Linked DNA regions of Homo sapiens: region 2 is linked to region 1. The links come from fine-mapping of genetic effects on gene expression. A gene starts in region 1. The other region holds a variant in brackets. All regions are shown on one strand. Distances are from middle to middle. Region 1 holds the start of CENPO (centromere protein O). Region 2 overlaps ADCY3 (adenylate cyclase 3).

What was found. PIP is the estimated chance that this variant, and not a neighbour inherited with it, causes the effect.
Region 2: its variant is fine-mapped to the expression of CENPO in tibial artery (GTEx, PIP above 0.99).

What each region holds. Positions count from the first base shown.
Region 1 is chr2:24,789,043-24,797,613 of GRCh38, reverse strand. CENPO (centromere protein O) reads right to left here and starts at 4,189. Exons shown (of 8, transcript NM_001322101.2): 1 at 4,113-4,189; 2 at 3,649-3,762. The coding sequence starts at 3,694. PTRHD1 (peptidyl-tRNA hydrolase domain containing 1) reads left to right here and starts at 4,223. Exons shown (of 2, transcript NM_001013663.2): 1 at 4,223-4,488; 2 at 7,033-7,886. The coding sequence starts at 4,237. The coding sequence ends at 7,203. It overlaps LOC105369164 (a long non-coding RNA gene), which reads left to right and starts at 4,539. Exons shown (of 3, transcript XR_939843.4): 1 at 4,539-4,847; 2 at 5,030-5,230; 3 at 5,835-7,022. RefSeq lists an enhancer at 4,133-4,562 and a silencer at 6,324-6,403.
Region 2 is chr2:24,856,269-24,864,839 of GRCh38, reverse strand. All of the region lies in intron 3 of ADCY3 (adenylate cyclase 3), which reads left to right. Among named protein-coding and RNA genes, the nearest start is that of ADCY3, 60 kb to the left of the region's middle. The variant A/G (reference allele first, on the strand shown) is at 4,399.

The sequences.
Region 1 (8,571 bases):
TTTTGTGACACTTACATTTTACCTCTCTGACCCCACTTTCTGCTTTGAAGGCTCCTACTCTCCTCCTTGACCATTAAATGCTGAAATTTTCCAGAGCTCAGTCCTAAGACCTCTTCTTTCCAGAAGAAATCTCATCAGTACCCACAGCCTTAATGGCCATACATGTCGATGCCACACAAATATGTATCTCTAGCTTATACCTCTCTCCTGCTTCTTGAGAAAGCAGAATATCCACCTGCCTTCTCAGTGTATCTACTTGGAAGACTTACAGGAACCTGACAATCAACATGTCCAAGACTGAATTCATCATCTCCCCTTCTAAACCCCTCCATGACTGGAACCATTATCCATCTATAGCTGTGTAAACCAGTACTTTCTTCCTCACACCTTCTCCCTGACCCAGTCCCAATCCATTACCAGATCCTATTGAATATACATTCCTAGTATCTCTAAAATATTTCCATTTTCCCCATCTGCAATGCCACCATTGTAGTTCAAGCTACTACCATTTCTGGCCTATTACAAGTTTCCTAGGTGGCCCATACACTGAAGCCATATTTCAAAATCTAAACTGGATCGTGTCATCCAGCTGGCTAAAGCCTTTCGATGACTTCACACTGCCTACGAGGCCTACTGGCCTCTGGATCTCTCTTACCCTCATCAGTATCATGCTGCTCCTTCTCTAGGCATTTCCACACAGGCCTCCTCTCAGGCTCTCAAACCCGCCCAGCGTCTTTACTGACCTGATCCCCCCACCCCCAACACACACACCAAAGGCTCTTCCACAGCCGCCCCTTATCCACCTTCACCTGCAGCTACTCTAGCTCGTTAGCACTCAATGCAAGCAGCATTTCCTCAGGGAAACCTTTGTAGCACCTTCAGAACAAGGTCAGGTGCCAGCTCATAAGCTCTCAAAGATCCTTCTGAGACAATACTATAGTTTTTTTGTTTTTGTTTTTTAAATAAAGAGATGGGGTCTCACTATGTTTCCCAGGCTGGTCTCAAACTCCTAAGCTCAAGCGATCCTCCCACCTCGGCTTCCCAAAGTGCTAGGATTACAGGCGTGAGCCACCGCACCCGGCCACTATAGTTTTAATTGTATATTCATTAGTGTGATTATTTGATTTGCTTATCTTTTCCACTGAACCTTAAAGTTCCAAAATCAGGGACCGTGTGCATTTGTGTTCACCCATGGATCCCTTAACCCTAGCACAAAGTGTTTACACATGGTAAACACTCCGGAAATGGTTATTTTTTTCTGAGACGAAATCTCACTCTGTTGCCCAAGCTGGAGTGCAGTGGCGCGATCTCAGCTCACTGCAACCTCTACCTCCCAGGTTCAAGCAATTCTCCTGCTTCAGCCTCCCAATTAGCTGGGACTACAGGCATGCACCACGATGCCCGGCTAATTTTTGTATTTTTAGTAGAGATGGGGTTTCACTATGTTAGCCAGACTGGTCTTGAACTCCTGACCTTGTGATCCACCCGCTTTGGCCTCCCAAAGTGCTGGGATTACAGGTGTGAGCCACCGCGCCCGGCCAACACTCCGGAAATGTTTACCGAAACACGGACAACCAGGCATGACACTCTTGGAGATTACATTCACTTGGCTCATGTCCACAGAAAAACCCACATTACCGCAATAATAATCGTGAGAAACCAAAATTCTAATTAAATAAATTAGTCCTAATAATTAGCACGTGATTAACTGCTTTATTCACCAATCTCTATTTATCCAACAACTATGCATTGAGAATTTACTATGGACCAAGGACCGTGCTGGAAGTTATTCATACTGTGGTGGCAAAACGAAGTCCCTGTCCTCACGGAGCTTACAAAAATTAATGTCCAACCAGGAGGTGATCTGAAAAGCACGCACACATAGAATAATTTAGGGTGGTAGAGGAGACGCCTCACCAAATTCTACTTTATGGAAATTCTATATTACTAAAACAGTAGATATCAATATTCCCAAAGTTTCTGAGATAAGTAGGTGTTCAAAACAGTATCATGCTGCTCCTTCTCTAGGCACTTCCACACAGCCCTCTTCTCAGGCTCTCAAACCTGCCCAGCTTCTTTACCGACCTGATTCCCTCTACACCAAGGGGGTAGCGTTGTTGTTTAGCGTTGCTACTACAGAAAAGAGGGAGTGTATCTGCTGGGCCTGCTTTACCTTGGAAGTTATGATTGCATCTCATCCTAGCCAGTCAGCTTTGTCCCAAAAAAAGTCAAAATCCCTGCCTATTTGAATAAATCATCTGGTTGCAACTACAACTCCATGTCCTTCCTTCTCAAATGAGTGGGGAGAATTCAAATAATAAGCAAAAAACTGAAATCAAACAAGCAGAGGGATAAAACCAGTATGGGTAACAGCTAAGTGTTTAAATATTGTTTTGGGTAGAGAATAAGGAGACTGGTCTAAGTCTCTTGATAATCCAAAACTTCCACCTCATCACTTACTTTAACAGAAATGAAATAAGGCCTGGACTAGAGAACAGGTTACTCCTGAGTGTAGCATGTTTCCACTACATAAAGTCACCAAACTTATTTTTAGTCTTAAAGTAACAATAAATCTTACCCCATATACTTTTATTATCTAAAGTCTCAGCTTAAGTCATCTTAGGCTGAATATAGTTACTTCTCTGTTATCAATGATAATGATGACCCAGAGAAAAATAGGATAACCAAATTCACTGACGCGCTCAGAAATTCTTTTTAAAACTGTAATTTAAGTTAGGTTTTATGGCAAGCTTTCCCAAAGTACTAACGTAGAACCCTTTGGATTTAGGCATCAGGCTTGAGTAAGTATTTCAAAGTTCTAAAAAGTATTAGTAGCAAAGAACATAAAGTCACACAAAACCAGAACTGTCCACAAATATTACTAGGCACTAAAGAAGAAAGCAACTTACTCCTGGACAGAAATTCAAACGCAAATCTCAGTTTCCAAAGGATTGACTAAGGACTAAGTAAAAGTAATAGTTTCGTAATTCTAAGCAACTCTAACAAGCATTCTTTAAACACCTTCTACATTTTAAGACACAAAGTATGTAAAGAATTAAGCCTTTCATTGAATATTTCCTATATATTAGACATGTGCTAAATGCTTCACTTGAAAAGTCTGAGTTCAATACTTTTCCACCACAAAAGAAATACTTTTTCCACAACCACAACTACAGTGCTATTTTCACCTCCATTTTCCAGATGAAGAAACAGAGGCAGAGAATAAAGTGACTTGCCTAAGGTCACAATATTTATCATGGCAGAGCCAACACTCAAAACCAGTTCTAGCCAACACTAAAGTCACTGCCCTACACTGGCCCTCCCTCAAGAGTAATGCATACATGGCCCAAAAAATCCGGGGAGAGGAAAGGGACCTCCCTGGCTAGAACCGCAGTTCAGAATATAAACACTGAGCATATGATGGATGCAACTTATCCGTTTCAAAAGGGGTGGGAGCCTAGAAACGAAGCCATTTTTCCTCCTCGAATAATCTTGGCTGCCTGTCCCTTTGTCTTCAATGTTAGTTCCTTTCACTATTCTGCTCCCAAACAGGCCAGGTCCCACGTCAGTTCCAGGAGGAAAGGGCTCTCTCAGCCTGCGGGTCATCTTTGGGCAGCAGCAGGAAGGAGGCGGCGACCCTCTGAATACCTCCTTTGGACTCGCCATCTGGACGTAAAGGGTTCGCCTGCTCCATCTCAGATTCCCAAGGGCCTTCCCATGAAGTTGTCTAGGCAACCGGTGATAGGGACTCCAATGTCCTTGCTAATAAAAGAAAAATGGCAACAGTCACATCACATCTAGTCCCATTCAAACCCAGACGGCAGGGCACACACCACTCAGGCACAACCCCTGGGCCGCGGATGACACAAATGTCACGGCTAGGATCCCCTTTCCTGAGCCGCCCGCCCTCTCCCATCGTCCGAGCCAGCAGAGTCCATGCCCACCCCCGCGCCCATCCCGCGGCCCCGGCGCGCTCCCGAGGCCACGGCTACTCTGGTCCAGCGGGCTTCCCGGCCACGGAAGGAGTTTTAAGAAGGCCGTTCAGCCCGCCACCCTGGCCACGGTCCGGTCCGACAATGGGTCTTTCCCCTACCTTCTCCCTTCTAGCTCACCCAGGCCAGAAGCGAGAATTCCCGCCATCCACGTCTTCAAAACCAAACCAACCGGTCCCGGCGTGCTTTGCGATCCTGCCGTACAAAAGCATGGCGGCGCTCAGGGCCCCGCCCTGATCCCAAGATGCACCGGGGAGTAGGTCCGGCCTTTCGGGTGGTCAGGAAGATGGCGGCCTCTGGGGCGGAGCCGCAGGTCCTGGTACAATACTTGGTGTTACGAAAGGATCTATCACAAGCTCCGTTCTCCTGGCCGGCGGGCGCACTGGTAGCGCAGGCTTGTCACGCGGCCACCGCGGCCTTGCACACTCACCGCGACCACCCGCACACAGCCGCTTACCTCCAAGAGCTGGGGCGCATGCGCAAAGTGGTCCTCGAGGTGAGGCACTCGGGCGGAGGGGGAGGTGCTGAGACATCGAGGGCGGAAGTGGGTGTGGTCTTCGGTCCGAAGGCCTGGCTGCGGGGAGTGGGTGCGGCGGGAGTTGGGGTGATCGTTAACATTTAGACTGGAGCTGTTTCCCTGGAGGTGCGCCCTTGGGAAGGGCCTGACTGTGTGAAGAGTGGACAGCAGTCCTCCGCCCCCTGCTGGGCTCGCGGTAAAGTGGTGGCTCCTGTGTCCCCGCTGTTCCGCCTGTGCACTGGCCGACTTTTTAAAGCCATGCCCCAAAGTGCTGTCCTCCTGCAAAACCGAGCCCGAAGGGACAGTGCAAAGTGAAGTCAAACTGAGTATTTACCTGGGTAGGACGCCAAATTATTTGAAAATAAATACTAAAAACGTTAGTATAAATTGAACCTAGCTTCAGCTAGACCAGGCACCAGGTGTGTAAATCGGTACACCTTTTAAAATAGCAGTCAGGTTCTGTTTGCAGATGACCAAACAAATCTCACCCTTACCCTTTGACTCTCTATCCTGCTGCTAGAGATGTAGCCTAAGAAAATAATCAGATGCACCCAAAGAGCTTTGCACAAGGATATTCATGGGAGCCCTTATGGTTTTGAAGCATATTTAGTGGTCGGGAAGAGTGCTCATGATGCGAAGCTAACTGAACTATATATACAGAATGATCCAGACTTTGAAAGGAAAAACTAAAGAAATACATCTACATATTAAGTAGTGCATGGTGAGATTTTGGTTATTTCCTAATGCTTAATCTGTATTTTTAAAATTTTCTACCTTAAGCACATATTTTATAATAAGGAAAAACGGCTTTAATAATAAACGGCTTTTTATAATAAGGAAAAACGGCTTTAAGCCAGAACTCAGGTGGAGGGGTGGAGTAATCCCTTCATGGGTAACTGACAAAGATAGATTATCTTTCAAGAGAAAAATTGCTGCTGGATAGTGAAACATCAAGCGGTAACCTGTAGGAAAAATGCCTTGAGAATCTGTGTAGGCAGAACAGAAGCTGCTGGCTTTTCACTTAGATTTTCTTCCTAGTAAGAGGTCTCAAGAAATCAGGTTAGACTCCTCTTGTCGCAGGTGAAACTCTCTGAAGCCTACAGGGATTAAGTGACTCCCCTGAGTTTAAAAGAGGGTCTCATGATTCTTAGTTGTTAGTCATGACTCAAGAAAGGGACTTAGGAGTCGCTACTGATTACATTGAGGTGCCGCTGTAGTCAGAAGGGCCAATAAAATATAAGAAAATACCAGGATTAACTACATTTATTGAGTGCTTAGTGTGTGCCAGGCACAGGTCCAAGCCTGATTTCATTGATCCCCATTAGGAAGCATTATTCCTGTTTTATAAAGGGACGAAGAGGCCAGCGAAGTCACCTAACTTATCCACGATCACACAGTCAGCAAGAGTTTGGAGTCCAGTAGTCTGATTCCAGAGCCTCACTGTATCTCACTATGCTCTGCTGCTGCCCGAGGCTGAAGAAGCTGATGAGTCCTCCAGCAGAGCTCTGCCAGAAGGACTCAGCAGGTTAAGAGTCGCAATACTGGCATTCTCTAATTTATTAAAACAAGCCTCTGAGTAGCTTAGTGGCTTCTGCCTTCATAGGTAAGAGATAAACTTTATGCAAAATAACACAAAAATAATAATTTTCTGAGTGATCGTTTTAATACTTCCTGGAATGGGATTCAGCATGGGTGAATTGGCAGTAAGGATGACCCAGAAACAATTTCAGAAGGATGTTAGAGAATATTGTACTCTCCCTTTAATAAACAAGTGGGAGCCATCCCAGCAGAAGGAAAACCCCTCTAGGTTTCAGTGAGGTAGAGTGGGAGGGGTGGAGGAAAGTGGAAGTGGATGTGCTTTTAGAAATCCTTCCACTAGGGGCCGGGCATGGTGGCTCACTCCTGTAATCCTAGCACTTTGGGAGGCTTAGGTGGGTGGATTGCTTGAGGTCAGGAGCTCCAGACCAGCCTGGGCAACATGGTGAAACCCCGTCTCTACTAAAAATACAAAAATTAGCCAGGTGTAGTGGTGTGCGCCTGTAATCCCAGCTACTCGGGAGGCTGAGGCAGGAGAATTGCTTGAACTCGGGAGCCAGAGACTGCAGTGAGCTGATAATCGTGCCACTGCACTCTAGCCCAGGCGACAGAGCAAGACTCTGTCTCAAAAGAAAAAAAAAAAAAAACTTCCACTAGGCAGCTCTTAAAGTCAGAGGCACTTAAAATTATGGGCGCCAGCCATAGGAGAGCTGGAAAATGTATAGAGCAGAATTACACATTACACATGTGTGTGTTGGGCATACAACATCTCACAAGGGAAGATACAAATCTCCATTTTCTAAACTGGAATATGAAGCCTCTCTCCCCTCCCCAGTGCACCACGGAATGACATCATTGCTCTGCAGCTCCCTCCTTGGTAAAGCTGTTACTCCACTTTCAGGCAAGAGGACTCCCGAAACCTTTTTTGGCCTTTTGACACTTCCTAAGTGGGCTATTCAGTTTGTGTTCTGTGTTCTTCTCCTTTAGGCCCCAGATGAGACCACCCTAAAGGAGCTGGCCGAGACCCTGCAACAGAAGAACATTGACCACATGCTGTGGCTTGAGCAACCAGAGAATATCGCCACTTGTATTGCTCTCCGGCCCTACCCCAAGGAAGAAGTGGGCCAGTATTTGAAGAAGTTCCGATTGTTCAAGTAACTGCTGCTTTGATGTGTTTGAATACGCAGGCCACCCATTCCAAAGCATCATGTGTTCCTTGCAGTGTCAGCTTGCTCCCGTCTTTCAGTTGTGACAATTTCTTGAGGGTTAAGCACATGTTCATATTAAAGTTGTCATTAATAACTACTTCCTCTTATTAATAAGTTCAAGTGGGGAAGGTGGGAGAGCAGTATTGTCTGGGGATCATTGCTCAAATAGAAGATTTGGTTAGACTCTCCTGTGGGGCTCAAGGAAACTCCCTTCCAGTCACTCGGGTTTGAAACTTTGCTTTTGAATTCCTTCTTATTCACATCCAGTTATCATATTTCATTGAATCTAAGATAACATCAACTTTAAGATGCGGTAGTATTTTATGTATTGTTAAAAAATATGCCGGCAAATTAAACACTTGTATTTCAATAACAAAGATGTTAAAATTTGGCCAGTGTGGTGGCTCACATCTGTTAATTCCAGGGTTTTGGGAAGCCAAGGCAGGAGGATCGCTTGAGCCCATGAGTTCAAGGTTACAGTCAGTTCTAATCATGCCACCGCACTCCAGCCTGGGCAACAGAGTGAGACACTGTCTCTATAAAGATTAATAACAAGTTAAAATTTGTGTGTGTCTATATATATGTACATACATACAGATTTATTAGATTCAATGAAATCTGTCAAGTACTACAGCTGTTTTCTTGTCATTTCAGTGCCGTTGCCCTGTGTCAGCCTCTCATTTTGCTCACTGGCGTGTCCCACGGTCTGTTCACCGCCAGTGTGACACTCCAATCCAGCAGCTGCTTTGCCACCACATAGGACGACTGAACACCTACCTGTGTAGTCTAGGCTCCTCTCTGCCTATGGAGTAATCCCAGCACTCCTTAGCTTAGACTTCAGGCCCTCCTCATGTGTATTTCCTACCTATCTTTTTTGTTTTTTCGAGATGGAGTCTCTCTCTGTTGCCCAGGCTGGAGTGCAGTGGCGCCATCTCTGCTCACTGCAACCTGCGCCTCCTGGGTTCAAGCCATTCTCCTGCCTCAGCCTCCCGAGTAGCTGGGATTACAGGTGCATGCCACCATAGCTGGCTAATTTTTGTGTTTTTTTAGTAGAGACGGGGTTTCACCATGTTGGCCAAGCTGGTCTCCAATTCCTGACCTCAGGTGATCCGCCAGCCTCGGACTCCCAAAGTGCTGGGATTACAGGTGTGAGCTACCGTGCCCGGCCTCCTACTTATCTTTTTAGTTGAATCTTCTATTCCCTTATTCAAACTTGATGTTTCCACAGAGTCCCTCCAGTTGCTATTCTCCAGTCTCTGGCATGGGAGTTGAATGTTACTACTCCTCCCCTCCCTTTCCTGCCCCTGGACTTTACTTA
Region 2 (8,571 bases), 67 kb before region 1:
CATTAAGTATACAATTCAGTGGCATTAAGTGCATTCACAATGTCGTGCAGCCATCACCACTGTCCGTTTCCAGAACTTTTTCATCATCCCAAAGAGAAACTCTGTGCCCATTAAACAATAACTGCCCATTCTCCCAGACTCTGGTAACCACTGTTCTACTGTGTCTCTGAATTTGCCTCTACTAGGTCCTTTATATAAGCGGAATCATGTATTTGTCCCTTTTTGACTGGCTTATTTCACTTAGCATGATGTCTTCAAGGTTCTTCTGTGTCGTCGGGCAGATCAGCATTTCTTTCCCGTTAAGGCTGATATCTCCTTGCATGTATACACCACGTTTTGTTTGTTCATTTGGACATTTGGGTGTTTTCTGCGGCTTTGCTATTGGGAATGGTGCTGCTGTGAACACGGGTGTACAGATATCTGTTTGAGTCCCTGTTTTCAGTTCTTTTGGATATATACCCAAAAGTGGAATTGCCAGGTCATATGGTAGTTCTGTGTTTAATTTTTTGAGGAATCTGGAATGTGCTTTTTTTGTTTTGTTTTGTTTTTTTGAGACAGAGTCTTGCTCTGTCGCCCAGGTTGGAATGCAGTGGTGCGATCTCAGCTCACTGCAGCTTCCGCCTCCGGGTTCAAGCTATTCTCCTGCTTCAGCGTCCCGAGTAGCTGGGATTACAGGTGCCCACCACCACTCCCAGCTAATTTTTCTTGTATTTTTAGTAGAGACGGGGTTTCACCATGTTAGACAGGCTAGTCTCGAACTCCTGACCTCTGGTGATCCGCCTGCCTTGGCCTCCCAAAGTGCTGGGATTACAGGCATGAGCCACCACGTCCGGCCTCCTATAGAGCTTCAAACAATTTATACTCCACCAGCAATGAGTGAGAGTATACTTAGGCACTTAAGTTTTCCTTGTTTATCTAGAAAATACCTCATTGCTTTTGGAAACCCTCCCCAAAGGATTCCTATTTGAAAACCCCAGCCCCAGGGAACCAGCCTCAAGGCAGGAGTGACATCCTGTGGGCTGTTTCCTGCCTTATCCTCATTTGGCTCAAGCCACAGACAGATAAACTCAAGTTTGGAAGAGTTCCTTTGCTTTCTTGGCCTACACTGTGTAATATTTGGCAAGAATATACAATTATAAAGAAATAAAAAAGAGGTTGGCATAGTGGCTCAACGCCTGTAATCCTAACACTTTAGGAGGTTGAGGCAGGAGGATTGCTTGAGGCCAAGAGCTCAAGACCAACCTGGCCAACATAGTGAGACCTCCATCTCTAAAATAAAAGACTGATAGAGGCTGTATTAGGGTTCTCTAGAGGGACAGAACTAATGGAATAGATATCTATGAAGGGGAGTTTATTAAGTTTTGACTCACATGATCACAAGGTCCCACAATAGGCCATCTGCAGGTAAGAGCAAGGAGAGCCTGTCCGAGTTCCAACACTGAAGAACTTCAAGTCCACTGTTGGAGAGCTGGATGCATCCAGCACAGGAGAAAAGTGTAGGCTGTATGGAGGCTAGGCCAGTCTCTCTTTTCACCTTTTTCTGCCTGTTTATATTCTAGCAAACTGGCCACTGATTAGATTGTGCCCACCCAGATTTAGGGTGGGTCTGCCTTTCCCAGCCCACCGACTCAAATGTTAAACTCCTTTGGCAACACCCTCACAGACACACCCAGGATCAATACTTTGTATCCTTCAATCCAATCAAGTTGACACTTAGTATTAACCATCACAGAGGCATATTCCTTCAAGCCTTTTTTTTGGTCCTGATATTTGAGAGTGTCCTAGCCATGTTTTATCCTGATTAAGAGATTATAAATGTAACACCTTCCTCTCACATAGTATAGCAGCTGAGAGCCAAGTACCAGAGTCTCTGCCCCTCTCCTATGGCCTTAGGGGAGATAAGTGTTAAGTAGTTATTGCACAGTGCCTGCACATAGACACTCAAACTCTCTACCATCATATGATTGTTGGATACAATTTTGAAGATATAGAAAAGTAGAAGAGGCCACCAAAACCTCCCTTAATCTGGGACTTTTTTTGAAAAATAATTTTTAAAAATGAATATGGTATTATAAATTAGATATGCAGTTAGAAAAACTCAGGTTTGCTTCATTTTTTTTTCTTTTTTATAGAGCTAAAATGAAACCCCTTGAAAGTGGTTTAGTACACTCACCATGTTGTGCCACCACCACCTCTAGCTAGTTCCGCAACATCTTCCCCCAAAAGAAAACTTGGGACCCGAGCTTGATTTTTATTTGTTTTTATTTTTTTTAATTAATTAATTTTTTTTTTTTGAGGCGGAGTCTCGCTCTGTCCCCGAGGCTGGAGTGCAGTGGCACGATCTCGGCTCACTGCAAGCTCCGCCTTCCGGGTTCACGCCATTCTCCTGCCTCAGCCTCCCGTGTAGCTGGGACTACAGGTGCCCGCCACCATGCCCGGCAAATATTTTGTATTTTTAGTAGAGACGGGGTTTCACCGTGTTAGCCAGGATGGTCTCGATCTCCTGACCTCGTGATCCGCCCACCTCAGCCTCCCAAAGTGCTGGGATTACAGGCGTGAGCCACCGCGCCCGGCTACCGAGATTGATTTTTAAAACCAGATAGAAAGGGACCTGGTGAGCCCTGGGACAGGCCTTGCACGTGAGGACAAGGGACCCAGACCCTAGCACAGTCCCACAGTCCTATGCTCCAGCCTCACCTTGTGGTGGATACCTGTCTGTACTGGGGGTTGGGGAGGGATGACCCCGCTGGTCATCTTGGACCTGGATTTGCATCCACAGCCTCTGCCAGCGTTTTTGGGGGACTGTGAGCCCTGGCTTTCTCTGTGTGGTGTTGGTACTTTACCTCTCTGGTCTTTAGTTTAATTTTCTGAAAATGGGATTAAAAATAATACCATTGTTAGGGGATAGTTTGGGAATCACATGAAATAAGGCAGAGGGGAGTCTAAAAACCATGAAGCCCTTTGGGGCTCCAAGATGCCGTCACGCTGGCCCCCAGCCCCTGGGGAGGCACCGGCTGAAGTCAGGGTGGTGAGGTAGGATGGGAGCTGGCTGGGGCCTGTGCATCCTTCCCCTTCTCTCTTCCAGCCAGGACAGAGGTCACTCCCTCCCAAGGCATTGGGGCTGACGTTGGGAGTGGCGTGGGCTCTGGGCTGATTTGACGTTTCAGAAACATCAGCTGACGGGTCTTCGGAGCTGAGTGCAGGCCGGTACTAGAGGCTGCATGACCCCGTTTCACTTTCCTCCTGTAAAAGCTCCTCATGAGAATAAAAATGAGATAATAGATGGAAAAACACTTTGGAAAGGGCCGCAGACAGTCCTGGTATGAGAGGAAACAGAACCTGGTTTGGAAGTGGCTCCAAAGAGCCATTTGAGGTCAGTGTCAGAGCAGGCCATCCCTTACTTACATGTGTGCTTAATGTCTTTTTTAAGAAAATTCTCCATTTAAAAAAATTATGAGTGTCTCCTATAAAAACAATCGTTAATCTACCCTCTGCAAAAAAGGGGCCTCCTTCCAGAATTGAGTGCCCAGGGTCCATGTCTCACTTTTTATTTGGTCAGGTGCTCTTATCTTTTTTTTTTTTTTTTTTTGAGATGGAGTCTCACTCTTTCGCCCAGGCTGGAGTGCAGTGGCACGATCTTGGCTCACTACAACCTCCACCTCCCAGGTTCAAGCGATTCTCCTGCCTGAGCCTCCCGTGTAGCTGGGACTACAGGTGCCCACCACCACACACAGCTAATTTTTGTATTTCTAGTACAGACGGGGTTTCACCATGTTGGCCAAGCTGGTCTCAAACTCCTGATCTCAAGTGATCTGCCTGCCTTGGCCTCCCAAAGTGCTGGGATTGCAGTCGTGAGCCCCATGCTCGGCTATTTATCTTGTTTTCTAAGCTGCCTTAAGAGTGTGCGGCTGAAGGGCAGCCCTGGCCATGTGGCTGTCCCAGCAGGTGTCTCCTCGCTGGGCCTCAGCTTCCTCCTCTGCTGTGAAGTGAGGTGTAGGGATGCGCTGGTGACCTGAGCCCGCTCTCTCTCTTGCCATCCCCTGGGAAGTTGTACCTTCTGTTATGAAGATGACCAGCCTCCTAATGACAGTCAACTCCCAGATGGGTGGGCAGCCAGCCATGGTCCAGGAGGGTGAGGCGGCACAGTCCCTCAAGCACAGGCATCCCTTTCTGCCTCCTCACTGGGGTGAGCATGTCCACATGTCAAAGGGTGCATTGAGGCAACAGAGCATTTGGGTAATGGCAAGGGTCTCAGATTCCAGTGGCTTTGCTGCTTTAACCTCCCTGGCTCCAGTCTCCTTCAGGGAGGTAGTGGAGCCTGCCCTGCCCTGAGGCCTTGTGGATTTGGAGCTCTTGGTGCAGCCCTGGCATGCGAAGCGTCCTCTTTGCCTCTGCCGA[A/G]CACATATCTGGCTTCGCAGGCAGTGCCATGGCGCTTCCCTGTGGTGCGGGGCCGCCAGGGTGCATGCTGACCTTGGTCCAGCCTCCCGGCTCTGTGGGCATGTGAGGGTAGAGCAGGAGGCCCAGAGGACAGAACTGGAGTTGTTTGTCTTTATTCCCATGTGACCACACTTCAGGGGTTAGTTGGGGACCTTGAGGGTTGCTAAGCACCCCAGCCGCCACCTGGCAACAGGCGGCACCCAGAAAACCCACTCAGCACACACCTGCTGCCAGGTGGAGCTACAAAACTGAGCCTCTCTGAATCATACTCAGAATCACTTCCCAGGGATCGGAACATGGTTGACGGAGGATGTGGGAAGATGGAGGGATGACAGGGGCAGGCCTATGCTTCCTTCACACGCGTCCTGTGTGGTTAACTGGCCCTGTGCCTGGTCCTCCCTCGGAGGTGAGGACTGTCCACAGTGCCCACCCTCAGACAGGAGGATGCTGCAGCCAGGGCACGTAGAGGGAGAGCCCAGGGCAGACTGCACAGGGTCTAGGGTAGAAAGCCATCCCCATCTTCACCCTTGGGATCCTGGGGAGACAGCTGAGGTGGACGCTGGGTGGGTTTCCATTCAGGTCTTGGGGGACTGCACAGAGACACAGCTGCCTCTCCCCACCTCTCCTTCTGCTTTAACCCACGTGCAGGGTCACCTGTTACTAGGGATGGTGTTTTTCCTTCATGCCGGTCTTACAGGGAAGAACCGCCCATTGACCACAAGCGTCAGGCCCCTCTCCTGGGAGCCCCGGAGCTTGGGACACTGGGAGGCTGCCATTTCCTAAGCTTGGATTGTATCTCTTGCTTTTCTGAATGTTCTTCCTCTGTAACCTTTGCCCAAGCCTGGTCACTGTTTCCCCCAAGACCTTTTGCTATTAGGACAAGGTGTCATCAACCCTGAGCCCTGTTCTTATAGGCGCTTGGTAGGGGAGAGGGGAGTCAGAGCCAGAGGCCAGTTGCCTCTTGGCCTGGGGTTGGGCTTCTAGTGCCAAGCCCCACCATGCCACTGTTATCCTGGCAACAGTGAGGTCGGGGCAGGGGGACCACTAAGAGTGGGAAGAGGAGACGAAGCTGGTGTCGAGTGGGAGGGCTGTGCCTCTGCCTGTGGATCCATAGCTGCTCTGCGTCTTGCTCGTTGCACCGTGGCTGCATCATGGCATTCTCCGCGTCTAATGTAATGGGTCAAATCCATTGTCTGCTTCACAGGAGACACACAGACACGTCCCCACCCCCAGCATCAGCCTTGCATTGTACTCGCTATCTTCTTCACAGAACCACCCACAAAGATATCTAATATTTTTAGTTTTTCTTTTAGCCTCGAATGCCTCTCAGTGTGAGAAAAGCCAGGTGCGTTCCCCATAATGCGAAGTAGGCACTGGTCCTTCTGTTGGTTCCAACTCTCACCTCTTGGATGTCACAGAATGCTCTTCATTTCAACATTCCAGGACTTAGCAAAACAAATCCACATTTCAGATAATGCAGATGATGAACCCATAGAAAACAGGTTGTCCTAAAGCAGTGGTGGGTTCCTGGTGGCAGTGGGAGGATGTTGGCTGTGTCAGGGTGGACCTGAGCAGAGCTGGTGAGGACAGTCCTGCTGACGGCCCATGCATGGGCTGTGTGGCCTCTGAGCTGGGCTCTGCTGGGCTGTGGCAGGTCTTAAGCCTTTGCCACATCCTCCAGCAGAATTTTTCTCCAAACAGTTGTAGAATTGCTGGAGAACTGTAGAGTTGTAGAATTGTAGAATTGTGCATTGTGGCCAGGGTTGTGGCGCATTTTATATTTATCTGGCTGTAAGAATGAAGTTTTGTTAGTAATGAGTGTAGTTTTATTGAACATTTATTTTGTGCCAGGCCCTGGATGGTGTTTTCATTGGATTATTTCATTTAATAATGAGATCTCTCATTTACCAGCTGGCACTTCCTCCTGGCTCTATTTGGGAGATCTGTTAATTAACAGGAAGAATCAGTTAGGTAGTCCTTGGACCACAGCTGGCCTGTGGGTATCTGTTTTGTTTGACCTTCCCAGAGTGTTAACATTTTCTAATACTTAAACATTTGTACATTCTGGATAAAAACCTGGATTTTTGACTCACTTAGAAAATGGAAAGATCTGTCAACAAAGGTTGCAAGTAAGACTTGCATTCACATTCTAACTGGGTCACTGAGCCCCTCTTGAGCCCAGGAGTCCAACACCAGACATGGCAAGACCTTATCTCTACAAAAAAACTTAAAAAAAATCCAGGCATGGTGGTGGTGCGCACCTGTAGTCCCAGCTACTTGGGAGGCTGAGGCGGGAGGATCACCTGAGCCCAGCAAGATCAGTGTGCAGTGAGCTGTGACTACACTTCAGCACTCCAGCCTGGGAGACAGCGGGACCCTGTCTCTTTAAAAAAAAAAAAAAAAAAAAAAAATTCAGACCACAAGTATTTCAGGACTTTTCTAGGCACTGGGGATACAGTTGTGAGCAGAACAGATTCTAGTGTGGGCAACACACATTAAACAGACGAGTATGTGCTATGTCAGGAGCTGGGAAGGGCTGTGGAGAGAAAGCAGAGGACGGAGCTTAGGGAGTGCCGTGGGTAAAGGTGGAAATTTTGTCGGTATAATTTTCTTGGGCCTTTATGCCCAGGGTGGTACTGAGTTGCTGCATCTGGGTCAAGGAGAGAATGCAAAGGGTCTGCTTTCCGCCAGTCACAGATACGAACCCTCCGCATCCTTCTCAACACAGGGCTCGAGGCAGCTGCTCTCTGCCCATCAGAGTTGGCACAGTACTTGTGACTACAGTGTTCTAGAGCTGCAATAGGTAGCAGTATGGTAGCCACTTGTCATATGTAGCTATTTAAATTAAACTTAATTAATTAGAAAATGTTAGTCTTTCAGTAGCACTAGCCACATTTCATGTGCTCAGTAGCTAAATGTGGCTGCCATATTGGACAGCAAAGATACAGAACATTTCTGTGATTGCAGGAAGTTCTATTAGCGCTGTTCTAGAGGATGGTGGCTTGCCCCTTGGGCCAGGTCTCCTAGTTGACAGCTCGTTAACTCTTCAAACCTCTAAGGAGTAGTACCTGCTCTTTGCCAAATAATTCGTGGTGAGGGCTCCAGGTACCACACACGTGGCCATCTTTGGGCCCAGTGGGCTGTCTCCTGAGACTGCAGTCACCTTGGCCTACACGGTGGCCCCTGTCTCTGGGGACTGCACAGGAGACCAGGCCAGTGACCAGAAGTCCCACATGTTCGGTGTCCCCTCTCCTGCTCTGGCAGGGTAAGAGCTCTGGGCTGACCCTGGGTCTGTGTGATTTCCGCACTGTTCCAGATGACATGGCCTGGTGGCTTGTTAGTCTGGCCCCGCCAACACTGAGATTAAATGTGGCCCTGCTTCTCTTGGGGCCTGTTGATCTGGGGACTCTGGGGACACTGGTCTGGTGCCTGTTCTCATGCTGGAGGCCTTGTTTCCAAATATGCTGACTTTTACAGTTATGCAGCTCCTCCCTCCTCTACGTTCCTACAGCATTTGGCTGAAGACTGTGAAGCACTCCTGCCCTGGGAGACCAGTCTCTCCCACGTGTGACCATTGCCCCACCCATCCAAGCTCTTTGGAGTACTGTTTACCTTTGACCTTCCCAGCATTTAGCTCAGGGACATGCATAGATGACCAGTGACTGTCCTTCGAGTGACTGAGGTGGGGAACACATCTCTTGGGCAGGGGCAGCACACGTGGGCCCCCTAGTCTAAATGGCGGCAGTATTGGAGTTTCCAGATTTCACACATTGTGGTACTTCGTCCCCTCATCCGGGAGAGGTGAGCTGTTTGGGCTCTGGCCTCCCAAGGTTACTAGGCCTGGTCCTTCTCTCCATTCCCTGCCTCCCACAGCCCCCTCTGCTTAGGTAGTCAGGCCATGATGGACGCCCTGGTGGGGTGCAGTGACTTTTTGGCTTCCAAATTGGCTGGACACTCTAAGAATCTGGATTAATCGGGACCAAGACAGACTGGTTTGTGAAACATCTGTGGGTATGCTCACAGCCTGTGATGGGTTACAGTGACATGTATTTGTCAAGCACATGGCACTTAGAACACATGAACACACATGGACACACCTACCCTACAGACAAACAGACTTCATATACATACCTC